Linked DNA regions of Homo sapiens: region 2 is linked to region 1. Evidence: fine-mapped expression QTL. A gene starts in region 1. The other region holds a variant in brackets. All regions are shown on one strand. Distances are from middle to middle.

Region 1 (15,677 bases):
CATGAAATAAACTTTTCCATTTTGATAGATAATAAATTGTATTTATTAATTTAATTTTCATTTATCAACTTATATGTTTATTGGTTATTTCTTTTGTAAATTATCTTTTTGTGTTATGTATTCATTTTTCTATAGATATATGCAACTTTTCTTATTGACTCATGTAAATAATTTATATATTAAGAATATTTAAACCTTTTTCTAAATACATTGCAACTTTTCCCTCAGTTTGCCATTTGCTCTTCAATCTGCTTATGGCAATTTTGGCACAATTTTAGAAAATACTTTAGTATGTTCTTACATGATTTATTTTTGTAAAAAGAAAGGTCAAGACTACATCAATATTTATCTAGTTCTTACATTGTCTTCTTGTGTTTATGGAGAGTTTCCTCTTACCATGTACATATATATTTAATATATTTAAAATACATTTTAAAATGTAGTTTAACAAGAAGATTCTGACTCCACCACATAGTAACATCTTGTTTTTAGTCAAATCACTAAATCTTTGAAGTCTCAGTTTTTCTATTTGTAAATTGAGGAGCCATCAGACCAACAGAAGAGGTAGAAATTCTAAATAAAGACTCATGAGCATATGAGAACCCACTGAACCATAAAGAGCATACCTTCTGTTACTGGTAAAAAATTAATTTTCTGTTAGTAATCAGTTACACCCGTAGTTGTCTATTTCATTTTAATTTTCTATTGCGCCCTAGGGAGAGTATTTATTGAATATATTTTACATTTAATAAAGGCAGATTAATAATTTTAAAGCCCATGGATTCCTTGCTTTATACTTTGTTATGTTTGCTTGTTTGTTTTGGCTAGAAAAGCCTAAGACCCAAAACTGAATGACTTTTTACCAGCTTTCAGTCAAGGGTTGATTTTCCTTTGCAGCCTCCATTGCTGGCCATGTTAAAAGAATAACATCAAGTAAAGTACAGAGAACAACATTTAGGCATTGTAATTACCACTTTCCTTATATAACTTCACTTCATATACAATGAATAAAGGAGAAATGAGCTTTTACACTGTTTTGAAATGACATGTTCATGGTTTCATTCTACTCGTAAGGTTAGCAATATTAACTAATTATAAACTTGGACACTTTGGGATGAATATAGATTGCAATTGATTTGTGAAAATATCTAGTACTGAAGCTGTAACAGCTCATATAAACTCTGAGGAGATTATTTTTTAACTCATGTTTTCTAGACGTGGAATTATCCATGGTTTTACTGATGATCTTTATGGACTATCTCATAGGTAGTTTTAAACTATGAAACATTATGTTTGACTATTTTTCTCCAGATGTGACTAATTACTAATATGTTTTTTAAATTGCTCTATTTATAGATAATCAACCTTTTATTTGTGGCATTAAACACTGTCCTTCACCTATTTATTATAGAATGCATTGCTAATTAGCTGTCAAGTATCAATGAGGATTAACACAATGCACACAATTTTTTTACCTAAAGTAGGTATAAATATTCCCCTGGTGAACATAATAGACTACTTGGTTTCTGGATGTAGTGTGCTTAAATAATGTCAGTAATTCCACCTAAGAAATTATAATTTTGCGGGGAGGAATAAAAGACAAAATTAGAAAATCATCAGTGTACCTCACTAGGGAAAAATTATTAAAGTTTAAATTTAAAAAATGAAGATCTGGTATATTTGAGAACTTTAAGGAAAAAATGTTCTTGTTTGAATCCAATTCATTGCATACCCACATCACTAATGAAGTTCACCTTGATGATGATGTGTTTGTTTGTCTAGGCCAGTTTGGTGGATTAATGAAACCTAAACCAGAAAGTGTTTCCAGTTTGGCATAGGGAATGTGAGATTGGCTGCTGTCTAAGGAGAGATATTTATAGGAAGGAATGGAGCAGTGGAGATGGATTCACTTTTAGGCAGACTAGATAGTATTTCTCTAATCACCTCATCCCCACCCCCTCAAATGTGTGGCTTCTGCACATAGATTTTTCTGTCATGAAACCCTTAATTCATAACACTATTTTTTTCAGACCACCTCACCCTGTTTTCTCTGGATTATGTCCTCCCACATCCAAATTTATTATTATTCCCATAGTATTTCCAATTTGCAGCTGCTTCCTGTTCTAAAGAATTTCATCTCTTCTCAACTGACTGTGTCCCTACCCCTCTCTATTTTTAATCCTCAGTCTTTCTCCATCTGTTCTTCTCTTTGTCACATGTGCAAACACCATCCATCAATTCCCCCATACTCCCTGTGTTGCTTTGCCTCTGAGTCACAGCTTTTATAATCGTGATGTTTGATAAATCAGTTATAATCTTCCCAGCAAATTTTATGATCAAACATGATTAGATGGATAAAGTCCTTTGTTGCAGGATTGATGAATTTATGGGCTTTATTTATATTGTTTTATTTTACATGAGGAACTTTCAGAATTGAGGAAAAATATAGCTTACCTATATAAAATAATACAGCATACCCTTTCATTCCCAAAAAGAAATAGGCAAGTCACTTTCATAAAAATAAGCTTAACTGAGAGTTTTTTTATTTTTTGAGAAATGCAAACACTGGAAAGTTTTTCAGAATGACAGTAAAGTCCTCAAAGGTGGGTGAGAAAGTGCATTTATTTAATCATTGTTTAGCAAGAGTAGCACCTTCTCAAGCACTTAAGAAAAAGATTGCATGATGAAGCACAATTTCTCTAACTTCTCAAATCGTGACTTGATTTGATAAATGCTATACATTATTATTATAAAAAACAAGTAATATCACCAAAGAGAAATAGATGAGTTATTTTACTTAATTCAGTCTTATCACTTTATCTTTCTATGGGAATATCACTCAATCCACCTCATTATAAAGAAGACATTCAAGGTTTTGTGGTAGCTATGAAATTAGCCTATGACCTGCCATTATGTTTTTTACCTCTATAAAATGTATTTTGGCTCTGGCTTTGGCCCATTTGTCTTGAAATAGGGTCATTTTACATAGCCCTTTATTTAGGGACTTTAAAAATTATCTCTCAGTAACAATGAATAATGCAAAGCCATTGTTATAGTACTATGTAATAGTTATGGAATGATTTTCTTCTCTCCCGTTATATATGTGCTACCCAGTTATTTAGTGACGACCTCACAATGAGCCTCTTGTTTCATGGTGGAGAAAGATAGCACTGTGATTTCAACCTTAAGACTCCAGTGAAAATAAATCATTTGTTCCTGTTTAGTGTTTTTGTTGTAATAATTCTCAGAAGAATGAGGCATAATGTTAATGGCATTCTAGTTTATGAAAGACTATAAACTTTAAATATTTCATAACTTTGAACTTCAACCTTTTCAGTATTCTGCACTTTCATTGGCTGTATGTGTACCTTTTGCACTCATGCTACAGAAGTTGTAAACAGTAAAAAATAGAAATGGCTAATGAATCATACTGTAGACATGTAAAAGGTCAGTGTTACAGAGTTTATTATTATCTTCTAGAGAATATATAGGACATTAAAATTCTGATGCTACAGTCTTGTGACAAGGAATATAATGAGAACTATAAATAATAAACAGTATAAAATGAATCTTCTTGTGACAATGATTATAGCTTCAAATAGGAAATACTTAACCCATTGTCATTATTACCAGAAGAAAGGACTGCTATGCTGATGTTCATCTTTCCCTTTTGTGGCTAGAATCTATTTAAGCCACAGAGAATAAAAATAAATAATATATATTCAAGAGTGTTGAATACATTGCTTTATGAGCGCTTTCCAAAATGAATATCATGTTATGGTTTAGGATTAATATGGATCACATTCTACCATAATAATTTTAAAATAACAACTTTAATGTGACTTGTTTGTTTAAAAACAGATGTTTTGCTGTCATTCAGGACACTGTCATGTGTGATAACAAAGTAATACCGTATTTCCATGCAGAAGCCATGTATAAACAAAAATATTTGCATTTAACAGCAGGATTCCAGGCTTATTTGATACTTGCATTCATTGAAATTGGTTATATAGGCCCAGAACTCTTCATAAACTAAAGAAAACATATTTACCCTGCACCTCAGAGGTATAAATACAACTTTAGTGTCTCAATTTGCTAATAGGTATTCATTATTGCTTACTATTGGTGTTCAGTGTCTAGACATGACATAGAAAAAAAACACACACACAGGGTGAGGAAAGAGAAAAGAGAGCTGAAAAGGAGCCAATTGTATTGATGTCACTTGCTTGTTCTAGTCAATTTGTCATGGATTTCTTTAATTAATTGTAAGTTAAGTTTTTCTGAGCATAGATCTGACCTACTTACTTCCTGTGAGAAGGAAAACGAATCCTGTCCTGCCGTCACTTACCACACCTTTTGGCAACTCTCTAGAGACGTAGCACTACCATTGACATGATGGCTTGATTTCTTCTCAAAATATCTTTCAACATCTGGCTCAAAAGATATTTTTGATGACTATAAGCATGCCCAATTTCTCTGTTCATAAGGATTAAAATTCAACAGATATTTAGTACACTAGGACTAAGCTACCTTATCACGAGCAGCTGTACAAAGATGTGCTGAATACTTGTGTTCAATCCACCAGAGTGAATTGATGGAATCATGCCAGTTTCAGGACATACATGGGGTGAGAGGAATTCTATCAGTCACTATCCAGATATTCCTGCTAAACCTTAGAATACCACCTGTACATTTAGAATGACTTGTTATGAAACAAATAAAAGAAACTTAATCAATCTATGTGTCCTCACCAGAGTAGCAAATGACTCTTTCTTGGTGCTAAAAATTCTTTATTGTTTTTTGTCTCTGGCAGGCTTTTTCAGCCTCTGTCTAACTGGTTATATCACCTACACTATCAGCACTGAATATTAAAAATTCTTATTTGAAGAAACATCCTCTTTAGACGTTTCTAGTTGATTGGTTGTTCATGTACAATGGCACTATATTTTAGGTCATTTTACTATATAGTGAATTGTTATACAGCTGTCAAAATGTACATCCTTTCACACTGCATGCTGCATCCTTATTTTTGTTACTTGAAATTTTAAAAGCTCCCATCTGAACATTTTGATAATCTCTCAGAACCATCATTATAATGGGGTGCTGTAGCAAATTATGAGGAATACAAACACAGCAGTATCTGAGAAAAACATTTCCATGTGAGTAAAGTATTTTCATTTGCACTTCAATGTTCTGAGCATATAGTGATATGGTTTGGCTGTGTTCTCACCCAAATCTCATCTTGAACAGCAGTTCCCATAATCCCCCTGTGTCTGTCTTGGGAGAGATCCACGGGGAGGTAATTGAATCATGGGGGCAGTTATCTTTATGCTGTTCTCGTGATAATGAGTGAGTTCTCACAGGATCTGTCAGTTTTATAAGTGCCTCCCCGACCTTCACTCTGCACTTTTCTCTCTGGTTGCCATGTAAAGAAGTACGTGTTTGCTTCCCTTTCTGCCCTAATTGTAATTTTCCTGAGGCCTCCCCAGCCATGTGGAATTGTAAGTCAATTAGACCTCTTTCCTTTATAAATTGCCCAGTCTTGAGTATGTCTTTATTAGCAGTGTGGGAATGGATCTAATACATATAGTAAGCTCTTTGTTGAGACAAAGGGTGAAAGGATCAGTCCTGTTCCACCTTGATTTTGGACTCTTATTGAGCCAGAGCTATATATACTATGTAATTAGCAACAAGGAAAAGTTGAAACACAAACACCAGTTCGTGTTGAAGCAGTGGTCTAAGAATACTCTTCCATCTTCCCTCCTCCTTCTTTCCTGACTTTTCAACTTGGTTCTGCCTATGACTGCTAAATGTTAGCTCTATTACTCTCACCTCAATCTCATCTGGCTTCTTTTACTGTTTGTTCATTTTTCTCTATTATCTGAACTTTAGGCTGCCTTTATGGAACTTTTCTTAATTCAGCCATCCAGCTCTAAGCACCCCTTATAGCCTTGGGTAGATAGAGATTCCCCAATCTAGCCTTGGCCTAGGAAGAACCTAACCACCCTTCCCCAGTCACACTGCAAGACAACTCAATAGAAAATAGTAACAGTCATTTAACTAAGCCATTTAGAAAACACTGACAGGTTTGTTTCTGCTTTAATTACCTTAAAGATAGAACACAAAATCCAAGGCTTTGGTTCCTGGGGTGTCATTTTGAAAAATAATTTACAGCATTTCAGACTTCACAATCTTTATTTAATCTCCAGTATGTAGGGCACATTTGTGCTAAACAGAGTGTGGTAGGGTACAAGGTTTCAAATAGGGCACATTAGTGCTAAACAGAGTGTGGGAGGGTACGTGGTTTCAAGTAGGGCACATTAGTGCTAAACAGAGTGTGGGAGGGTACAAGGTTTCAAATATAAAAGCATAAATGAATAACTTTCACCTCTTTCCACAACCCTTTTTTCATCCTTCCTTTTTGCCATCAGCTGTGCTCTCTGTTGGGTGATGCAGGAGCTGGCATTCCCCCAGAATGGAAATGGGCAAAATAAGAAGGCAGTGGAGGACCAAATATCGGAGGAGGAGCAAAAGGAAGAGGCATAGTGAGAAAGGGATTGAAAATCGGAGGTCGAGGAGGGATGAAACAATGAACAGTAGAGCAAGAAGGTAAACCTGGAGTACTGGAAGACAACGGGATAGGCCTTGGCCAATTATGCATGGGGTGGCATGGGCCCCTGAGTGGGAAAGAAACATGAGCCAGCTTTCCTCTGCAGGCTATTCGTGTATTTCCGGGCGGCACCTCCATTACTATCCCTGATCTAAGGGTGGGAATATGTGAAGGGCCTCTCACTTGTGGGCCCCTGGGTGGAAAGAACCCTTTACCTTGTGGCAAAGCTACATGCAACCTTGCGTTATTACTGCCTCTCTCAGTGCCCCCATTGTTGACCTTTGTGCCCCCTACTATCAGTGCAGGAGGGCCGCCAGAGACTTCCCAGGACACATTAATAGCATCCTGTCCCTCCTGCCTCCAGCCTGCCAGTGCATCAGAGCTGTTTACTTCTGCTGTTGCTAGGGACTCTTCTGCAACAGCAGGTGGTGGCCCGTAGGGGTGTCTATGAGCTCTCAAGCTATGAAGAGGAATGCAGGATCCTGTTCTTTCAGAGGGCCACTCCAGTTGCTTGCTATCCAGATCAGTCAGCACATTGACGGAAGGTCTCAGCGGTACTTGAGGTTGACCCCAGGGCTCTGCGTCATCCTCTGGCTTGGAACTCAGACATTGCAGGGGCATGTCGTGGTGCAGCTCCTGGTTCCCATTTTTGTCCACAGATACTACCAAGGGTGAAGGGGCGTGCCCTCCAAGGCTTGCAAAAACAGAAATCAAACAGCTAATAAAAATGGAAATGCACTGACCAGAAAATAGCTACAATATGTAATTGACTGAGCTCACTGAAATATACCAGGGAAAAAAGGAGTGCCCTCTCCCCTATATGTAGCCAAATACTTGCTCAGCGCTCTGGCCCCTTCCCAGGTGGCTTCTTTAGTACTAGGCTACATGATTACCCTTCATGACTACTCAGTGGCCTATTTCATTCCTCATTTCCCCACCTCCACAAGGCAGCAAGGAAGCTTAGAAGATGCACATAACTTAATAGTAAGCATATAATAGAAAATACCAGCTTTTTCAATTCTCTCTAGGATCTATGATTCACTAATCCTGGCATTCAGATTCTGGCAAGATTGTTCTGGTATGTCTTCCGAAGTAAAATATCTTTTTCTTCACAGAAGTCAAAGAAAAGTTAGTTATGTTAACAAACACACAAGTTTCTCTTCTTGAGGTATCATTCAACACTCACACCAAATTTTGTTAAAAATTCTTTCATTCAACCACCACCACACCCTAGAGTAAGAATTTCCTCATGTTTAAACCCCACTGTTTAGACTAGGGATTTGTAAATTTTCTTTCAAAATTACACTTCAAAGTTGCCACTCTTAAATCCGGTATTCTTAGTAACTAAATTTATGTCCTTCAAGTTTTTGTCTGTAATTTCCTCCCACATCTCCTCCAACCCATTCATCCCTGTCCCAGTTACACAATAAAGCAATTCAAACTGACTTTGCCTTCAAAATTAAACAGTTGTACTCGGTTTTGTACTTACACGTTTTCAATACAAGCCATGAAGAAATTTGATCAGAATAGCTTTCCTGAGGTGGTGGAGATAACCCACTGAACAGGCCAGCTAGGTCTGGAGAAATGACTCCTGCTTCTGCTTTAGAGGCTTGGCAACTAGAATGAAGCCAGGGACCAACTGCTTCTTTCTAGATTTGGAGTTCTCTTTCTGGGGTTACCAGTTGCTAAGGAAGGGAGGGAGAAAAGGAGTGGGGAGGGGGGTGGGTGGGGATGAATCTGTGACACTCCTTTGAACTTAAATGTGGGACTGGTGTTTGCACAGTAGTAGATGGATGGTAAAGGCATTCACTACATTAATTCTGATGCAGGGCAGTTGGAAAGACAAATCATTTCAAGAAGGATTTAGAAGAATCATGGAAGCATGATATTTTTTAAAGAGTTATTTATGAAGTTTTAGTTTCTACAAGGTAGTTGTCAAGTCTCCTCAAATTTGGAAACACATTGAGCAGAGTATTGTGCCTAATATTGTAACTTAAACTTCCAGTTTGGGGATGCATATTATTAACTTGGTGGAGAACAGAGGTTTGGGGGCTAAATTGCTTTTCTATCTGTGAAGATGAAACAAGAACTCCTCTAAGAATCATTGTGACATTATTTTTTAGCCCCTCACGTTGCAGTTATATCCTTCATCTTGTCTGTTAGTTTATAAGCTCTCTCTCTCTCTCTCTGTCTCTGTCTATGTCTGTGTGCACGCGCGTGTGTGTGTGTGTGTGTGTACGTGTGTGTATTTCCTGTAATAGAGCTCTGGAAGTTTCTCTCAAGTTGGGAGGGTCAGAATAAATGGCATAACAGGTATCATAAATTTATAAATATTAGCTTAGGTTTGGCCATGCAACATTTTTGCATAGGGAACTTTCTGTTTGTCCAGCCTAAATTTCATTTTAAGCAAGTTTACTTTCCCAGCTTTCTTTTCTGCCATTGATCTACAGATTAATTGCTCCGAAATTACAACAACCATTCCATCATCCAAGACAATTACTGTTGCTCTAGGACAAAGCCATAAACTTGGCAAACCTGCCTAAATTTACATAAAATTTGTGCTGTGCAGGCTAGACCTGGGAGATTGTGTCTTCCTTATTTTCAATATTAGTATATGTTGCTACAGTTCAACAGTAATGTATATTTCTTTTCTCTTAAGGAAAGATAACAGACTCAAATACCATGTGCTTCAATTTTTAGATATATGGTGTCTGTGTATCTGTGTGTGTGTGAGAGAGACAGAATAATGCATAAGTACAAAGTACTAATGTAAAGGAATGGTCACTACTGCAAATCAACACAACTCATATAGAAGTAACCTTTGGGGTCTGCAAGTCCACATCTTCCTGCCAGAGTGTGTTGTCTCCATCTATACAAGAAAGTGGCATGTTTCCAACATATTTTCCAGAAGAATCTGTTCACTTGCCTAGCATGGTTCACTATTAAGTAATCTCTTGATTCCCCAGATTCTGTTTCTATTCTTGCTTCAGTTTATTACGCACCTTGTCCTTATGTAAAAATAATAGTATTATTAGCAGTATTATTGTTGTGGGGTGTTAAAGCTCTTTTACTTCTTGTCGTATCAGAGAGGAAATTGCAACTTGGGTTAATGCCTGCTAATAGTTGGTGAATCACATTTAGATAAATAGTTTCAGTATAATAGGTTGCATATTTTTTTCCTGATAATAGCAACAAAGCCTGAGGAATGCCTTTTGTTCTTATCAAATTACTATAATAATAAACAATTTTACCTAGAAATACCTGTTTGGTAAGATATCATCTTAGTTGGATTACATAACAGTATGGTGTAATATAGGAACCAAATTGCTGGGAACAATGACAATGACCATGGCACCAAGAATTTTCCAAAGCCATGAAGTGTATAATTTATGGATATTACCTCATATTTTGTTTGTAACTTGTTTTCCTTTGTGCAAATAGTCCATATTTATTGAATGTCTACTGCGTGCATTCACTATTGTGTTAAGTGTTGATTTTACCAAAAAAGTTAAATATGCAATCCATATTGACTTCAGGGAATGTTCTAATTTTCTTGGGAGGCAAAATAACATCTATAAAATTATTGAAGAATGGCATAAAAAATAGCCACAGACCATTAGCTGCATGGTATAAGCTAAGACTGCAATGGAAATTCAGAAGAAGGAACTATAATTGTGGGTTAAAGTAGTTGTGACACAGTTTATGTGGGATTAAAACTTCTGCTGTGTTTTGAAAAATTGATATACATGGGCAGAAAAGGAGATGTCATGCTATGGGAAGAACAGTTATAGAAGTAGAAATAAAGAAAAAAATGGCATTTTGTAGTTCATATTTTAAATCAAAACTAGGGCTCATATTTGGCAGAAATAGAAATATAAAGTACCAATTAGACCCCTTAGAGATAGCGATCAACCAGATAATTCATGAAGTTTTACCCATAAATTTTACCCATAAATAAATATTTGAATACATTCAAATTTCAAAGTTAAATACAGCTATCTCAAAACCTACCTTTTCGCAAAAAGCTATCAGGGTAACTCAATCATCCACTGAGCATTGAAAATTCAGTAATAAAGTATATGCCTTTTTCTTTACTTCACTTAAATAACAGTTTTGGGGAGAGAAACATGGGTAATGAAGGTTGAAGTTTCACCAAAAAGTAGCCTAGTTAGCAAGGCAGCTGTTTGAGTCCATTTTCTGCTGCTATAACATAATACTTGAGACTGGGTAATCTATAAACAAAAGAAATGTATTTATCACAGTTTTGGAGGATGGAAAGTCCAATATCAAGGAACTGACTTCTGGCAAGAGCCTTCTTGCTGTGGCATCCCATGACAAAAGGTGGAAGCACAAGGGAGTGAGAGACAGCAAGGAAGAGAGGGCCAAACTCACTTTCATACCAACCCACTCTAGCAATACCAAACTCACTACTGCCTTATCAACATTAGTCTATTCATGAGAGTGGAGACCTCATGGTCTAATTAATCTTAATGGTCTCACCTCTTAATCTGTCACAATGGCAATTAAATTTCAACATGAGTTTTGAAGGGGGCCTAAGAAGTAGCTAAGGTATAAATGCCTTTCATTACCCATAGCCTCTTTATTCATGACACAGTTCCAGATATCATTTATTTACCTCTCAAAAAATTTTGATGACAGTATTGAAATGCTAAGTAAGGTCTGTAGAAAGATATATTTACTTTTGCACAGCAATTATGACTTTAATATAAATATGATTTCTGGGAATGGTGGCATGCACATGTAATCCCAGCTACTCAGGAGGCTGAGGCAGGAGGATGGATTGAGCCCAGTGGTTGGAGACCAGCCTGGGAAATATAATGAAACCCCATCTGAAACTTTTAAAAAAGTGTGGTTGATCTACCAAAATTGTGTTGCTGTGGGGTTTTTTTTAAAGAAATTTTGCAGATGTGTAAATGAAGGCAAAGTATCATTTAAAATACACCCTTTCTCTTTTGCTTCAAATAAGAATTCAGGATATAAAGACATAAAGATGATTTTTCTCTGTTTCCATCTAGCTTATAAGGAAATTGTCATGTTGACCTCTGGGGAGACAGTCATCAGAAAATCCTACCCATTTGCTCACTTTCCAAATGTAATTTGGCTATGCATGTGAAAAACTCTCTAAGTTTATGATGTCCAAAAAGTGCTTCTGGAAGATATACCAGGTTTTTGAGGAGTCTGTAGTCATTTATTCCATGTATTAAAGCATGAGAATCGTGAAAGCATGATACTTTCCCAAAATGGGCCAGGCAGCATTATTCTATTACACAGCTATAGGCAGTAGTCCTGTCTTCTCTGCCACCAGCTGTCCTGCAAACTCTGTGTGGTAATTGATGAGAACAAACAGGTGAGAGTGTGGCTATATCACCACCAGTATTGGCAAAAGCAACTAACAACATGTGCCTCACTGCTGGATCTAGCTGTATGAAATTCAATAGACTATTATTGCTTTTATAGAGTTTTTTGTTTCAGATTTAAATATTTACATATTTGTTTTAAGATGGGTAACATGGCAATTACTTCCAAACAGGTTATCTCTTTGTACAAATCAGAAGCTATCAGAAGTTTCCTCAACATATATCACTCATTTTTCTTGCTCTCATGGGGGTCGGAACCAGAAATTAAGTAGCACCAGGGCAAGTGAGATGAGAATAAAAAAAGGAAGAAGTAAAAGAAAATCTATTTTTTTTTACCACTTACTGTACACCAGACATTTGATATACATTGTCTCATTTAATGGTCACAGCAAACTTTTAAGGCAGCTATTATTATTATACTCATTTTATAAATGAGGAAAAAGAGAGTCAGAGAAAATAAGTAGAAGTTTCCCATGGTCCCAAAGCTAGTAAATGGCAAACAATATTCAGATACAGCCAATTTGACACCAAAGCCAATATTTCATTCATTTAATCACGTGGCCTCTAAATTATAGTTCTAGGTCAATCACAAAAGTGGATCAGATAAAAACGTGTGTACCAAATCTGAGTTTAGGTTTTTTGTAATGCATGGACCCATTGACCCTCATCCAGAGGTAGTTCTGCAATGAAGAAATCATCCAGGCTATAATGCTCACATCCCAGAAAGTCTGCCTCTGCAGGGATGCAGCAAGTGATTGAAGTGTTAGTTAATAATGTAGCAAGGTGGTGATGACTGAAAACACTGTCTTGGAGCAATTGGGGTGGGTGACAGATAATAGGAATTGGTTATAGGACAGCATCAAGTGACCATTACTGAGGAGCTAATGGCAATATGAGCCCAGCATTATCAATATTAAGATTTAATTAATGTTGAGCTCTTGAGCTGCACATATAGAAGATATAGGGTTCCTCATATTATTTCCATGGTAGTGTGTGTGTGTGTGTGTGTGTGTGTGTGTGTGTGTGTGTGTGGTGAAATGGGGGCCGAGCTTGAGTCATCCAAGTGAGGTATTAATGATAACCCTAGAGAATACCCTTCTGAATTAGATAAATATATAAATTAAAACATAAAAGCAATATGTTTATGTTCATATAGGGCATATAATATAAATTAAGATGCAAACATGGACTAATAAAATTAGAACAGTTAATGAAAACAGGTTAAAGTTTACAGAAAGCATCAGGCCATAAGTTTATAATGGTGTAATACATGTATTTGCCATGTCAGATTTAATTGCTGGGCCCAGGAGTTGAGGGCATGCTTAATTTCTTGAGTACTTGGTTTGAAAAACAAAATATATTTTAGATTAATTTCATCTTGCTTATAAACAAGACACTGGAAATTCATGTTGGAAACCTTTTATCAGTTTATTAAAAATGAATCTGTTTTTCAAAATTGTTATGAGCTTTGACTCTGGAATCATAAGGGCACAAATCTGGGTTTAATCTCAGCTTTACCACTTATCAACTGTGTTATCTTGGATAGGTTTCTTAACTTCTCTAAACCTCATTCTCCTTACCTGTAAAATGGGGTTAGAGAGAGAGTTATGTTAAGTAGTGTATGAATAATGACTGTCACATACTAGGTGGCTTAAATATAATAATTTCCTTGTACATATTAGACTCAGTGTTTTTATGTAAAATAGAGATGATAATGCCTTTCCTATTTCAGAACTGTTGAGAAAATTAAATATAGTTATTTGAAATTGTTCTGCAAACTGTAAGTCACTTCACACGTTAGGTTCATATAACCATAGGTGATATTTCTAGAGCAAGAAGACTTCTTGGCACAATTTAATTAGCATTGTGTAGGTGGCCACCTATCCCTCTTACATATAAGGCCTTTTTTCTTTTCCTAAATCATTAAGGTGGTGAGGATTAACCACACTATTAAAAAAACCCCATGGTGTATAATGCTTTAAACTTTTCAATTGGCACTACATAAAATCACCCATTGTTATATTTAATGTAGTAGCTGTGTTCGAATAAAGAGGGCATTTTTGTATTTGACCACATATTTAATTGGGCTTTAGAAACTTGTGTTTCACAACAGGAATCACTGAAAGCGTGTGATGATTAAAGAGGAAGGCCTGGGGAAAAAAGAATGTTGCATGGTTTCCTGATAGTGAAGATTTGATTGATTGATTCTCCAAATGATTTGTTACTTTAGAGGGAAAAAAAATTTTCCCACCCAGAAGCCTTCCCTACATCCCTCTCAAGTGGTCAAATAAATAGCTTGTTGGAGGAAGTGTAACACTTTTATAGACTGACTATAATTCAATGTGCAGGAAAATTTGCTGATGAAACTCAAAATTAAAATAATAATAAAGCCTATCCAGAGAGACCATTCTTAATTCTTGCCTGAATTATGCCGTATGCCCATGCTGCTGACATAAGTGTTTGTTTAAAGGTCCTGGATAGTTTGCCTTTATTTTTGAACTATTTAAGATCTTCTATCTCTAGTTCTTAGAGTGATGAATTGATATGTGTGTTTACTTAGTGTGGGAGTTCAACAGAATAAAAGATCAGATTGATGAGGGCAAGGCAATAAGAGAGGGACTCTTAGAAAATTTCTACAGGAAATTTCTAAAGGAATATCATTCAGGTAGTGAAGTTTCAACAGCCCTATAATAAGATCTGAGCCAAACTGATGAACCTTTATAGAGGTACTGGGTCTTTTGGCACATGGTCAAATGAGAGCAAATAAAGGTATGGAGCATTGCACCACTTCAGGGTGAACTGAACACTTGGTTATTTCTGTGGTTTCTAGGTATTATTGAGCAACAGACTGACCTGGGTATCTTATTAAAATAGCAGATTCCTTGGCTCCATCCCTTAGATTCTGATTCAATTGATCTGTACTGGGGCCCAGTTATCTTTAGTTTATTTACTGATTCTAATGAGGTGATCTTCTGACCACATTAGAGAAATACTGACAAGGTGATGTAGCCTTGTAGTCTAGGCTTGAGGGGTTAGGCCCGGAATTCTAGTGGGCACTATTTTTTCATTAGCTCTAAACCACTGACTAGATAGAGGGACAATAGAACATAAAATCTTTTTGACTGCATGCCACACTCCAGTTCCATTTTGTTCCACAGACCTCCAAACATCATGTTTAGTTTTTTAAAAGATAGGTAACATTTAGTTCATTAAGAGTAGTAGTTCTAAAATTTGGTTTAGGGAAAAATGCCACCCTCCCCATACCCTTTCAAAGGGCCCACAGAGTCAAAATATTTTCATTATTATATGATTATATTATTTCACTTATTCAGTCTAATTCTCTCCTGAGGGTGCAGTGGGAGTTTTTCTCAGGCTACATGATATGTGGTGTCATTGCTCTAATGATTAATGGAATACGTGCTTATATATTCCTGTGTTTTAAAATTTTCCCAGATTTAATTTCTAATATGGTGTTGGGCTCAGAAAACAATAACCCCAAATTAAGTCCTCAGAAGTAGCTTCAGAAGAAAAAGATTTTCTCTGATCTTCCCCTGTTCTCCTGTCTCTCAGTCCTAGTCTTCTCCAAGGCTAGCCATACAAACTAGGGTCCCTCTTCAAAGCAGGAAGAAGAATTAGTGAGATTCAAGACAGGCTATTTGAAAATACAAAGTTAGAAGAGAAAAAGAAAA
Region 2 (15,677 bases), 37 kb after region 1:
TTTTTTCAAAATCCAGTGAATGTTATAGCACAAGAAATTCGTCTCAAATAATGCAAATTTGAAGACATCATTTATGAGGTCAGGGGAATCACAGGATGGACTGCAGAATGTAACAAGACCATCTAACTATATTAAAAAATGTATGAAACAATCTCACTGAAGAAGGTGGGGGAATAAGTAGCAGACCTAAGTAACTTTGGCAGTGAATGGAGTTTGTAAGACTAAAGACAAAAGGAACTGCACAGAAGCATTATGCTTTAGTTGATAAAGTTCTTTACCATGGTCATATGGGTTAACAATTGTAATATTTTCACACATGTATATCAGAATTGGACAATTCAGTAAATAGATGACATATGATGAGAGTCAGGTTTGTCACTGTTGGAGGGGGAGTTTACAGTTAAGCAAGGGGAGGAGACTAGAATAATGAGTTAGATGGGCAACACTATGAACTTATTTTTAGCTTAATAGAAATACTGATTGTTACATATAGAAATATTTAGATATCTGCAAGGGTTATTATGCACACATCTATCCTTCCTTTGTCAGCCAAGCTGGGGAAGAAGAAACAACACCCCACAGCAATGAGCAAACGTAGTGTCCAGCTCTTGCTTTCTAGTATCATTCTCCAGTGAAGCAACCAGGGTTCCTTGGAGTTATTCTCTTGCTGAGTCAAGACAGACAGGAAAACACAAGATGAGACTGTAGCACCTGCCAGAAAAAAAAAAGTGCCAGAAAGAAGAAAAAAACAAAAAAAGGAAAGCACATTATAATATAGTCATGCCAAAGGGACACAATACTCAAGAAAAACAGTTGCCAATGCCAAAGTTGGAACAATTTGTACAAATTAATAAAAATAGTATTGAATTATAATCCAAAGTGTAAATTAAATATCAATGAGTTTATAATGATATAAATAAAAGGTTATATAAACAAATAAGATAGGACTAAAGACAAATCTTCCTTGCACACAAATTCCACATAATTTACACAGCTATTCTACCCTGAGGTGGGTAGCAAAACTTCTCATTTTTTGTGTGTGAGTTGAGCATAGTAACTTCCTTCTGAAGACTAAAGTGTAGAAAGGAGGGGAAAGTGTACTTTACAGTGGAGAAATCTTCACTTCAGCCCAGAGATCAAGGTAAAAATCAATAGGAAACAGTCATATTGATAGTATATGCCCTCACATATGATATAATATGATGAATATGTTGCTTTACCTCTACACTATTCCTACAAAAGAAGTGTACACTCTTCTTTGGCTGCCTTGCACTATTTTTAAAATCATCACATATAAATAATATAACTCCAATATTATTTTGTTATATAAAAATATGACATAATGCCATCATGACAGCTTGCATTTTTTATCGTGATAATAGTAAGATCACAGTTTCAGTCACACTTTGCAACAATTAGTTTTATTATTTTCCTGAGCAATTCTCTATTGCATAAAGAGAGCATTAAGAAAGAAGCATGTTATAACCTTCTTTCCATCTGTGCTTAGAAAAATGAATTTTGTGCATTAATATTTTGTGAATTAATATTGAGGGTTTAATAACATGCTAATTATTATTGCATTATTATCTTCACTTTAGCATTTGTGAATAAATATTATTAAATGTTTTAGTTTTGGATATGTAACATAATGAGTGGCTGGGAGCAGTGGCTCAAGCCTGTAATCCCAGCAATTTGGGAGTCCAAGGCGGGGGGATCACTTGATGCCAGGAGTTTGAGACCAGCCTGGCCAACATGGTGAGACCCCGTCTCTAGTAAAAATACCAAAAAAAAAAAAAATTAGTCGAGTGTAGTGGTGCACACCTACAATCCCAGCTACTCAGGAGGCTGAGGCAGGAGAATTGCTTGAACCCGGGAAGAAGAAGTTGCAATGAGCTGAGATTGCACCACTGCACTACAGCCCTGGTGACAGGGCAAGACTTCGTCAAAAAAGAAAGAAAGAAAGGAAGAAAGAAAGGAAGGAAGGAAGGAAGGAAGGAAGGAAGGAAGGAAGGAAGGAAGGAAAGAAAGAAAGGAAGAAAGGAAGAAAGAAAGAGAAAGAGAGAGAGAGAGAGGGAGGGCGGGAGGGAGGGAGGGAAAGATAATGACTATGAAGAGAAAATCTGAGAAAAGATAAAATGCTCAAAATATATCCAAATACAATGTCTGAAGAATGCAAAGACTCTCTTCCAGCTTACTCTTGGTCCCAGAAGAGCAGCAAGAATACATAAAGGATAACATGGCTTAAAGCACGAGTCGCACAACCAAGTGGTAATCAGGAAAATGTCATACATCAAGAAGCTAAAAGCAGATGGCAAAGGTGAGCAGTTATTAAGCAATGACTGTTACACCTGCTGGAGAATACTATAGCTTATTCAAGAATAGTTATTTGATGCATTCTGCTTAAAGTGTTAAAAGGACGTCTATTTCCTTCCTGCAAAACAGTGTCATTTTAAACACACAAGTGCTGTTGGAGACATGTCACCACTTTTAAAGACAAAGCCTAGACTAGGGTGAGGCAAGTGAGGCAACTTGCATACAAAAGTGAAGAAAGTGCTTGCTCTCAGAATCAGGGTCTTCTTAAATTTGCACCTTACACACCTCCTTTTCCTCTCTCTATGCCTGGTCGGATTTAAAGAGTCTTCCTCTTTGTGCTAGATATTATCTGACAACTTAAGAGAAAAAATATTACATGGTTCAATATTTCTAAGCCAGTTTGTGGTCATTCTTGTGAATGTTTTGTACAATATTCTACTAAATGCTTCTGAAGTGCTATAAAAGGAAGAAAATATATGTTCCTTCACAGAGTGTACTTTTAGAGGAACAAAGCATACATATGAAACATAAAGCATCTAGGAAGAAACATCTAAATATTGTATAAAACATGCAGAACAATAGCAAATTTACATCTGTATACAGGAAAACTAAAACTTCAAACAACAGAGCTTGAGAACAGAGACTCAGTGAGTAAATGGGGATTTGAAATTTGTCTATCAGCTTATAATTGTGTGTATTTTATTTATAAATCAGCTTATGAATGAGTATGGAACTTCAAGTGAATTTCTTGTTTTAGGAAAGCTTCAGGTTCATTTGCTTTTTAAAAATTAATGTATGTACAGCTTTGATTTGCTATAGGTAGAGTTGAATTGTTTAAGTATGATTCCATGAGAAACTGCTATACTACACAAAGAGTGAAGAAATAGTCTATTAGCTTCACTTGAGACTGATATTCCTTTATTTCCTATGCAGGACCTTGAATACAAGACATTTTTGGACATTGCATACACCTACTAAGAATTTCAGTTACAACCATTTTACAGTTCTTAGGCTGTGATTTTTTAAAAAATAAATTACTGTTAAAATTCCAACAGAATATTAAGAACATTAATTGACATATTTTCAGCAGAATGGTTGTAGAAAATCAAGTAAAATATTAAACAATGTGCAAGTAAACACTAGAAAGAACAGAAATATGTGTGTGTGTGTATATATATATATACATTGAGAGAGAGAGAGAGAGATAAGACAGAAAGAGAGAGAATGACAATCAGAGAGACAGACAGAGACAGAGACTGCATTTAATTTAAATACAAGTTTCCTTTCCATTCACATCAGAAACCTCTTGTGTTGTCGCCTCTTTGGGGGCCCAGGTTTCCAAATGTTCCTTCCTTTTGATCCTGCCCTTTATTCATAGATAACTGCAAGCAGTATTTATTCTTTAGAGATTTGGAATTGAGCATACTTCTGGGTTTGTTATCTCTGCTGAAATCTCCCTCATTAGTATCTTCCTGTTCTTTCAATGCCAAATTTTCAATTAAGTATTAATCCTAATTTGGAACTGTATTATGCTTCTTATTGCAAGGCTTTGCTAGACTACTTTACTTACCAAAGTAACCCTTTGAAGTAAGGTTGCCAGATAAAATACAGAACAGCCAGTTATATTTGATTTCCAGATAAATTTGCCCTCCTTCTGCCCCAAATATTATAGGGGACAAACTTGTACTAAAAATTAAATAATTTACCTGAAACTCAAATTAAACCAAGTATTTTGTTTTGCTTTTCCATGGATTTTTAATTATTTTAAATTTTTGACTAAATCAGACAACTTCACTTCAAGGTAAAGTAAAGGAGCATTTACGCAGCACTTATATACTAGTCCCACTTTCACAAATCTTCTATTTAATCCTTAGAGCAGCCCTATGATGTACAAATACCCATCCCCATTTAACAAATGAAAAAATAATCTCAGAGATTCCTAAGAGGCCATAAAGCTAATGGCTGGCCCATTTAAAATCCAGCTTCTGCTCTGGTATGAAACACAATCCATCTTTCCCTACACAATGCTGTCTCTCAGCCTTTTCTGTTTCTTATTGCAGAATAGAAAACAGGTGAGAAGAAAGGTTAGAGCTGCTTATACCACGTATTTTAAAGTATTTTTTTTTTGCTTAAAACTTTAAATTATGAAAATTTTCAAGCATTCATGACAGAAGTGTTTGAACAAGAGCAACTTCATCTTGAATAGGGGCTGGGTAAAATGAGGCTGAGACCTACTGGGCTTCATCCCCAGGAGGTTAGGCTTTCTAAGTCTGGATGAGATAAGAGGTTGGCATAAGATATAGGTCATAAAGACCTTGCTGATTAAATAGACCATGGTAAAGAAGTCATCCAAAACCCAGGAATACCAAGATGGTGACAAAAGTGACCTTTGGTCATCCTCACTGCTCATTATACACTAATTATAATGCATTAGCATCCTAAAACACACTTCCACCAGTGCCACGACAGTTAAGAAATTCCATGGCAACATCAGGAAGTTATCATATATGGTCTAAAAAGGGGTGGAACCCTCACTTCCAGGAATTGCCCACCCCTATCCCAGAAAACTCATGAATAGTCCACCCTTTGTTTGGCATATAATCAAAAAGTAACAAGTATAAGCAGCTGAGTGGCCCATGCTGCTGCTCTGCCTATTAAATAGCCATTTTTTATTCCTTTACTTCTATAATAAACTTGCTTTCACTTTTACTCTATGGACTTGCCTCAAAGTCTTTCTTGCGCAAGATCCAATTACTCTCTCTTGGTATGTGGATCGGGACCCTTTACCAGTAACATTCACATAGGTAAAGAGAATAGTGTAGAGCATTCCCATGTATTCATCACCTGGTCTCAACAATTATCAACATGTTTTGTCAATTTTGTTTTATGTGTCCACCATCCTTCTATTTTTTTTTTCTAGAGTACTTTAAAGCAAGTCCAATACATCATGTTATTTAAACTCTTACCCTATCATTTTCCCAAACTTGGTTCATAATGAAATAGTTGACTAAACTACCATCCATATTCACCTTATACTAACAACTTCTTTACTCCCTGTTACGTCATTTTCCCTTCTGTCAGCCTAATGACTTCATTAATTTGGAATTTGTTGTTTTCTGAAACCAGTACACCGTAGCAGTTTCAACTATCTAAACTACTACAAAGACTTTACTATAGGTTGCTTTACTTTTTAAAATTATAATAAAATTAAACATATAAAACCACACTGTACTAATTCGTTGTCTCATTATTATAAAGGACTGCCTGAGACTGGGTAATGTATAAAGGAAAGAGGTTTAATTGACTCACATTTCCACAGGGCTGATGAGGCCTTGGGAAATTTACAATCATAGTGAAAGGGGAAGCAAACACATCTTTCTTCACATGTTGGCCGAGAAAAAGGGGGAAAAGCCCCTTATAAAACCATCAGACCTCATGAGAGCTCACTCACTGTCATGAGAAGAGCAGCATAAGGGTAACCACCCCCATGATTCAAGTACCTCCCCACCAGGACCCTCCCATGACACGTGGGGATTATGAGAACTACAATTCAAGATGAGATTTGTGTGTGGACATAGCCAAACCATATCATTCAGACCTTGCCCCTCCCCCAATCTCATGTACTCACATTTCAAAACACAACCATGCCTTTT[C/G]AACAGTCTCCCAAAGTCTTCACTCATTCCAGCATTAACCCAAAAGTCCTAGTCCAAAGTGTCATCTGAGACAGGGCAAATCCCTTCCACCTGTGAGCCTGTAAAATCAAAAGCAAGTTAATTATTTCCTAGATACAGTTGGGGGTACAGGCATAGAGTAAATACACCTATTTCAAATGAGAGAAATTGGCTAAAACAAAGAGGTTAAAGGCCCCATGCAAGTCCGAAATCCAATAGGGCCGTCATTAAACCTTAAAGTTCCATAATGATCTCCTTTGACTCCATGTCTTACATTCAAGTCATGCTGATGCAAGAGGTGGGCTCCCATGGCCTTGGGCAGCTCTGCCCCTGTGGCTTTGCAGGGTACAACGCCCCCCCCCCCTCACCCGCCAGCTTCCTTCATGGGCTGGCATTGAGTGTGTGCACCGGGTGCACGGTGCAAGCTGTTGGTGGATATACCATTCTGGGGTCTGGAGGATGGTGGCTCTCTTCTCACAGCTCCACTAGGCAGTGCCCCAGTGGGGACTCTGAGTGGGGGATCGAACCCACATTTCCCTTCTGCACTGCCATAGCAGAGGCTCTCCACAAGGGCATCAACCCTGAAGCAGACTTTTGCCTGGATATCCAGGCATTTCCATACATCCTCTGAAATCTAGGAAGAGGTTCCCAAACCTCAATTCTTGGCTTCTGTGCACCCACAGGCCCAACACCATGTGGATGCTGCCAAGACTTGGGTCTTGCACCCTCTAAAGCCATGGCCTGAGCTGCACCTTGGCCCCTTTTAGCCATAGCTGGAATGCAGGGCACCAAGTCCCAAGACTGCACAAAGCAGCAAGGCCCTGGCCCAGCTTATGAAACCATTTTTTTCCTCCTAGGCCTCTGACCCTGTGATGGGAGGGGCTGCCATGAAGACCTCTGACATGCCCTAGAGACATTTTTCTCATTTTCTTGGGGGTCAACATTTGGCTGCTCATTACTTATGCAAATTTCTGCAGCCAGCTTGAGTTTCTTCTCAGAAAATGGGTTTTTCTTTTCTATCACATTGTCAGGCTGCCTTTTAAACATGAGTTCCAATTCCAGACAATATCTTTGTGAATAAATAAAACTGAATGCTTTTAGTAGCACACAAATCACATTTTGTATGCTTTGCTGCTTAGAAATTCCTTCCTCCAGATACCCTAAATCATTCCTATTAAGTTCAAAGTTTCACAAATCTCTAGGGCAGTGGCAAATTGCCACCAGTGTATTTCCTATAAGAGTCATCTTTATTCCAGTTCCCAACAAGTTCCTCATCTCCATCTGAGACCACCTCAGCCTGGACTTAATTGTCCATATCACCGTCAGCATTTTGGTCAAACTATTCAATAAGTCTTTAGGAAGTTCCAAACTTTCCCACATCTCCCTGTCTTCTTCTGAGTCCTCCAAACTGTTCCAACCTCTGCCTGTTACCCAGTTCCAAAGTCACTTTCGCATTTTTTGGAATCTTTACTGCAGCGCCTCACTACCTGGTACCAATTTACTGTGTTAGTCCATTGTCATGCTGCTATAAAGGACTGCCTGAGATTGAGTAATTTATAAAGGAAAGAGGTCTAATTGACTCACTGTTGGCCATGTCTGGGGAGGCTTCAGGAAACTTACAATCATGGCAAAAGGGGAAGTAAACACATCCTTTCTCACATGATGGCAGGAAGGAGAAATGCCAAGAAAAAGGGAGAAAAGCCCCTTATAAAACAATTGGATCTCATGAGAACTCACTCACTATCATGAGAACAACAGCATGGGGGCAGGATTCAATTACCTCCCCATTGGGTCCCTCCCACGACACGTGGGGATTATGGGAACTACAACTCAAGATGAGGTTTGTGTGGGGACACAACCAAACCATATCACGCACAAACTATAACATAGTTACTGAATAATTGTTTTTCCCAAATTATGACAAGACAACTTATATAGAAGTTGGTTTTGGGCTACCTCTGTTCTTGCAAAAGTTATTGAACAATCTAAGTTTGAAAACAGGTTTCCACCTTTCAAAAAGTGATGAAGTGGATTCCTTACCTTTTCTCTTTACAGAAATAAACTCATCAGAAAAATAAATGGTATATAAAATTTTGGCCTTAAATATAATGTGGGAGAATTTTACCAGCAACAGAAAGTAGAAGTGTGGCCTGGAAAAATTGTCTCCACCGTTAGTTTAGTGATACTAGAGAATCATTAGACTGATGGTAAAGAGGAATGACGTTAAGCATTGTATAACACTTATAGTATATAACCTGCCACTGCAATTAATCAGATAAAAAAGATGAGGGAGGAGTAAAATGTATATTTTGCAAAATGCTTAGACATTCTTTAATAAATAAAGTTAATGCTATCATTAGTGGCAGCTCTAAGCAAAACTTTTATCTTTTTTTCCTATGAATAAGCACTCTTTGGGGAGATGAATATTGCTGCAGTCATATTGTGCTTTCAGTTAATGAGATATGGGTTCTATTTGTTAGAGTTTTATGGTAATGAAGCTTATAATTTACTGACAAACTGGCTTGCTTTCAAAAATTCTCTTATTGCACTGAATTTTTTTTTCATCGGAAACATTGATGTGCTAATTTGTGTGTTTATGGCAGCAGATGTGCACCTTCACTAAAAGGCTGCCAGAGTGAGGGAAAGGACAGGACAGCAAAGAAAGAAGGGGAAAGGTGTTCAGAGTTTTCAATGGGTAATAAACTATAGACATAAATGAAAAAATGGCACAGTTTGAACATTCATGAACTCATCAAGTATGTTATGTGAAGTATCAAATATTTATCACTAAAATTTGGTTGAGTTACAGATATGCTGAGTGTCAAATCCCTTTATCCAGTGCGAAAACTGAAGGACAAAATTTTTCATTTAAAATTTAATAGCTGTGACAGAAAGTCGTTAAATTAAAAGTAGGTGAAAACCACTTTTCTCCCCTCAAAGAGAAGATTCTTTTTTCTAAATAAGAAACATTGTAATTATTAACAATGACTTTCCTGCACAGACCTTCTGAGTTCTGTTTTTCTCCAGCTCTAAAATTTTATGGCTCATAGGAGGAAAAACATTGTGCCCACGTTTCAATACTAACGTTGTTAATGCCGGCTAAGTAAGGTGTGTAACAAAAATCATGGTATCTTGATATTTCCTTTCATAGGAAATTGAAATATTCTAATCACAGGTCTATAATCTATAATGGAGGACATAAAACCTTGATGATTTTGCAGACACTCTCCTTAAACACAGAACAAAACAGATCTCTATGCAACACATGTAATGAGAAAAAAAGGGAGGGTAAGCTGTTTATAGTGCTTTTCATCTTACCAGGGTTTAAGAAACAAGTAGGAGACAGACGGAAAACATGGATTCACTCATGGCTAGACACTGTAGATTGAGAGGCAGTTGTTGATAATACCAGTTAGTTGAAAAGTAGTTTCCAGAAGGTGCATCATAGTCACTTGAGGAAATAAGACACAGACATCTCAGAAAAGAGCACTCTGTTCGACCTTTATGCTTTGGGGTAAATGTGCAACCATATACTAACCTCTTAATTTCAGCAAATTCCTAGACCTTTTAAATCAATAGAAAACAGTTACTAAACAGTTCCATAACATTTATGGTAGGCATTATCTCTACCCTCAAACACCTTGCAATCTAACTGGAAAGAATATATATTTGTATAATAAGCGCACATAAGGAGGGCAATAAATAAGAATATAATTAAGGCAAAGTAGGGCATAAATAAGAATATGCAATAAATAAGAATATAATTTAGGCAAACTAGGGCATGTGAAAACACAGTTTTTATTTTTCTTGTTCTTCAGTATCAGTTTCTTCTTATTAAGACTCCATTCAGGCCCGGTGCTGTGGCTCACACCTGTAATCCCAACACTATGGGAGGCCGAGGTGGGTGGATCAATTGCGATCAGGAGTTCAAGACAAGACTGGCCAACATGGCAAAACCCCGTCCCTACAAAAATGCAAAAAAAAAGTTTAGCTGGGTGGGGTGGCAGGCTCCTGTAACCCCAGCTACTTGGGAGGATGAGGCAGGAGAATTGCTTGAAACTGGGGGGTGGAGGTTGCAGTGAGCTGAAATCATGCCACTGCACTCCACTCCAGCCTGTGTGACAGAGTGAGACTCTGTGTCAAATAAAAAAGAAAAAAAAGAAAAAAAGACTGCATTCAAACACCTATTAATTGCATAACCTTTTTTGAGATTCTATTTCATACGGTGTCTGGCAGAGAATAGGCACTCGACATATGTTTATTAAGTGAATAGCATTATCTAGATGCTGGAGATATTCAAAAGAGAAGACACCAATCCAACACTTACAGCACATTGGTTCTGTGTAAAAATAAATAAACAAATGAATAAATAAATAAATAAATGGGAGAAAATGTTTCTGCCCTCACAAACTCTAGACAGATAAAACTTTTTGAATGTCATGTCTCTTTGCTGCTAGGTTGTGAAAGTGTTTTCTTCCTCCTCCTTTCACTTCTTCTTTTCTCCCTTTTCTTCCTAAAATGTTTATCTTACCAACTTGAGCAGGAGTAGAGACTTTCTCTATCCCCATTTCTCCCTTTAAAGATTATTGATTGCAAGAGAAAAACAAATCGTTACATGGACTCATTAATTTAATGTTGTGTTCACTTTCTTAACTACATATTATGGACTTAACATATGGAGTTCTAAAGTAAAAAATAGAAATCTGCACTTAGATGTAATGGGTAAAATAAAAATCTCGATTTTTTGTTATATATCATGCTGATTTAGGGATTAATGGCAAATAATAATTATGTTACTAACAATATTATACTAATAACAGTTAACATTTATGGAAACCCTATTACATGAAAGGTGTTCTTCAATGTGATTTTTTTTAATTTCCATATGTTTTTGGAGAAAAGGTGGTGTTTGGTTACAAGAGCAAGTTCTTTAGTGGTGATTTGTGAGATTTTGGTGCACCCATAACCCAAGCAGTATACGCTGCACCTAATTTGTAGTCTTTAATCCCTCACACCCGTCCGATAGTTTTCCCCAAGTCCGCAAACTCCATGGTATCATTCTTATGCCTTTGCATTCTCATAGCTTAGCTCCCACATTTGAGTAAGAACATACCATACTTGGTTTTCCTTTCTCGAGTTACTTCACTTAGAATAATGGTATCCAATTCCGTCTAGGTTGCTGCAAATGTCATTATTTTGTTCCTTATTGTGGCTGAATAGTATTTAAATATATATGTATATATTTAATTATATATAATATATGTATATATTATATTATATATAATATAAGTATATATTATATATAAGTATATATTATATGATATATAATATAAGTGTATATAAAATATAATCTATACATATAATCTATACATATATGTATACAGGTATTTATAAAATATAATATATACATATATGTATATATGTATTTATATTATATGTATAATATATAATAGTATTTAATGGTATATATACATACATATGAATAGTTTTTAATGGTATATATACATATATAATATATAATATATTCTATATACATATATAATATATAATATATTCTATATACATATATAATATTTAATATATTCTATATACATATATAATATATAATATATTCTATATACATATATAATATTTAATATATTCTATATACATATATAATATTTAATATATTCTATATACATATATAATATTTAATATATTCTATATACATATATAATATTTAATATATTCTATATACATATATAATATTTACTGTATTCTATATACATATATAATATATATCATATATTCTGTAGACATATATATCATATATTCTGTAAACATATATATCATATATTCTGTAGACATATATAATATATCATATATTCTGTAGACATATATAATATATCATATATATATAATATATACATATATAATATATGAATATATTATATATAGTATATATAATATATAATATATTCATATATTATATATGGTATATATACATATATAATATATTCATATATTATATATGTATATATACATATATAATATATTCATATATTATATATAGTATATATACATATATAATATATTCATATATTATATATAATATATATACATATACAACATATTCTATATAGTATATAAATATATTATATATACATATATAATATATTCTATATAATTATATATAATATAGATAATATATACATATATAAGATATATAATATATATAATATATATAATATATACATATGTTATATATATAATATATATACATGTATTACATATAATGTATGTAATATATATAATATATATAATATATAATATATACCTATATAATATATAACATATTATATAGTATAATATTACAAATATTATATAGACATATATAATATATGTAATATATTATATAGACATATATAATATATGTAATATATTATATAGACATATATAATATATGTAATATATTATGTAGACATATATAATATGTGTAATATATTATGTAGACATATATAATATGTGTAATATATTATGTAGACATATATAATATGTGTAATATATTGTGTAGACATATATAATATATGTAATATATTTGTAGACATATATAATATATGTAATATATTTGTAGACATATATAATATATGTAATATATTATATAGACATATCTAATATATGTAATATATTATATAGACATATATAATATATGTAATATATTATATAGACATATATATGTAATATATTATATAGACATATATATGTAATATATTATATAGACATATATATGTAATATATAGACATATATATGTAATATATTATATAGACATATATATGTAATATATTATATAGACATATATAATATATGTAATATATTACTATATATTATATAGACACATATAATATGTAGTAATATATTACTATATATTATATTACATATATAATATATAGGAATATATTACTACATATTATATTACATATAATATGTAGTAATATATTACATATATAATATATGTAATACAATATATATTATATTATATATATGTAATATAGTATGTATTATAATATAATACATATTGTATGTACATATATAATATAAAATTCTAATATATAATATATTATAATTATATTATATAATATATTATAATTATGTAATTATAATTAATTATATAATATATTATATAATTATATAATATATATAATATATTACATAATTATATAATATATATAATATTTATAATATCTATAATATTATATAATATATATAATATATTATATATATTATATATATTATATAATATATATTATATATAACATAATTTAATATATAATATATATAATATATTATATGTAATATATATTACATAATTATATTATAATATATAATATATAATTATAATATATAATATATTATATATTTATATATATATAAATATAATTATATAATATATTATGTATTATAATATAATATGTATTATAATACATAATATATATTCTATATACATATAGAATATATATAATATATTAGAATATATAATATATAATATAGAATACATATATTATATATTGTAATATAATATATAATGTAAAATATATGTATTCTATATTATATATAATATATTTGATATATATACACATAGGTGTATGTGTATATATACCATTAAATACTATTCAGCCACAATGAGGAACAAAATAATGACATTTGCAGCAACCTAGATGGAATTGGATACCATTATTCTAAGTGAAGTAACTCAAGAATGGAAAACCAAGTATGGTATATTCTTACTCAAATGTGGAAGCTAAGGTATGAGGATGCAAAGGCATAAGAATGATACAATGGAGTTTGCGGACTTGGGGAACAGGATCGGAGAGGTGTGAGGGATTAAAGACTACAAATTTGGTGCAGTGTATACTGCTTGGGTTATGGGTGCACCAAAATCTCACAAATCACCACTAAAGAACTTGCTCATGTAACGAAACACCACCTGTTCTCCAAAAACATATGAAAATTAAAAAATCACATTGAACAACACCTTTCATGTAATAGGTTTTCCATAAATGTCAACTGTTATTAGTATAATATTATCATTAGTAACATAATTATTATTTATATGATATATAATATGTATATCACAATTTCTTTATCCACTCAATGATTGATGAGCATTTGGGCTGGTTCCATATTTTCACAATTGCAAATTGTGCTGCTGTAAGCATGAGTGTACAAGTATCTTTTTTTGTAAATTGACTTCTTTTCCTCTGGGTAGATATCCAGTAATGGGATTGCTGGATCAAATGGTAGTTGTACTTTTAGTTCTTTAAGGAATCTCCACATTGTTCTCTATAGTGGTTTTACTAGTTTACATTCCCACCAGCAGTGTAAAAGTGTTTCCTTTTCACCTCATCCCCGCCAACATCTATTATTTTTTGATTTTTTTATTATGTCCATTCTTGCAGGAGTAAGGTCGAATCACATTGTGGTTTTGCTTTGCATATCCTTGATCATTAGTGATGTTGAGCATTCTTTCATATATTTGTTGGCAATTTGTATATCTTCTTTTGAGAATTGTCTGTTCCTGTCCTTAGCCCAGTTTTTGATGAGCTTGTTTCCTTTTCTTGCTAATTTGTTTGAGTTCCTTGTAGATTCTGGATTTTAGTCCATTATTGGATGTATAGATTGTGAACATTTTCTCTCACTCTGTGGGTTTTCTGTTTACTCCACTGATTGTTTCTTTTGATGTACAGAAACTTTTAGTTTAATTAAGTCACACCTATTTATTATTTTTTTTGTTGCATTTGTTTTTGGGTACTTGGATATGAATTCTTTGCCTAAACCTTTGTCTAGAAGGGTTTTTTCAATGTTATCTTCTAGAATTTTTATGGTTTCAGGTCTTAGATTTAAGTCTTTGATCCATCTTGTGTTGATTTTTGTATAAGGTGAGAAACGAGGATCCAGTTTTATTCTTCTACATGTGGCTTGCCAATTATCCCATCACCATTTGTTGAATACAGTATTCTTTCTCTACTTTATGTTTTTGTTTGCTTTGACAAAGATCAGTTGGCCCTAAGTATTTTGCTTTATTTCTGGGTTCTCTATTCTGTTCCATTGGTCTATGTGCCTATTGTTATACCAGTACCATGCTGTTTTGGTGACTATGGCCTTATAGTATAGTTTGAAGTCAGGTAATGTGATGCCTCCACATTTGTTCTTTTTGCTTAGCCGTAGTTTGGCTATACAGGCTTGTTTTTGGTTCCACAAGAATTTTAGGATTGTCTTTTTTAGTTCTGTGAAGAACGATGACAGTATTTTGATGGAAATTGCATTGAATTTGTAGATTCCTTTTGGCATATGGTCATTTTTACAATATTGATTCTACCTACCCATGAGCATGAGAAGTGTTTCCATTTGTTTATGTTGTCTATGATTTCTTTCAGCAGTGTTTTGTAGTTTTCCTTGTAGAGGTCTTTCACCTCCTTAGGTATATTCGGGGTTTTTTTTGTTTTGTTTTTTCGTTTTTTTGAGTTTTTTTTTTTTTTTTGCAGCTATTGTAAAAGGGATTGAGTTCCTGATTTGATTCTCAACTTGGTCACTGTTGCTGTATAGAAGAGCTACTGATTTGTGTACATTGATTTTGTATGCTGAAACTTTGATGAACTCATTTATCAGTTCTAAGAGCTTTTCAGAAGGGTCTTTAGGATTTTCTAGGTTTGCAA

Direction of the effects. Positions count from the first base shown, and alleles are read on the strand shown. Sizes are in standard deviations (SD) of each study's normalised expression.
In carriers of allele C in region 2, the expression in liver of the gene that starts at base 8,234 in region 1 tends to be lower than with G alone (small effect, 0.39 SD a copy in GTEx).

What was found. PIP is the estimated chance that this variant, and not a neighbour inherited with it, causes the effect. A credible set is the group of variants that fine-mapping cannot tell apart.
Region 2: its variant is the best candidate, but not a certain one, in a credible set for the expression of PRR32 in liver (GTEx, PIP 0.88).

The regions. Positions count from the first base shown.
Region 1 is chrX:126,812,286-126,827,962 of GRCh38, reverse strand. It overlaps PRR32 (proline rich 32), which reads right to left and starts at 8,234. Exons shown (of 2, transcript NM_001122716.2): 1 at 8,100-8,234; 2 at 6,177-7,304. The coding sequence starts at 8,119. The coding sequence ends at 6,428.
Region 2 is chrX:126,775,115-126,790,791 of GRCh38, reverse strand. No RefSeq gene overlaps it. Among named protein-coding and RNA genes, the nearest start is that of PRR32, 37 kb to the left of the region's middle. The variant C/G (reference allele first, on the strand shown) is at 5,967.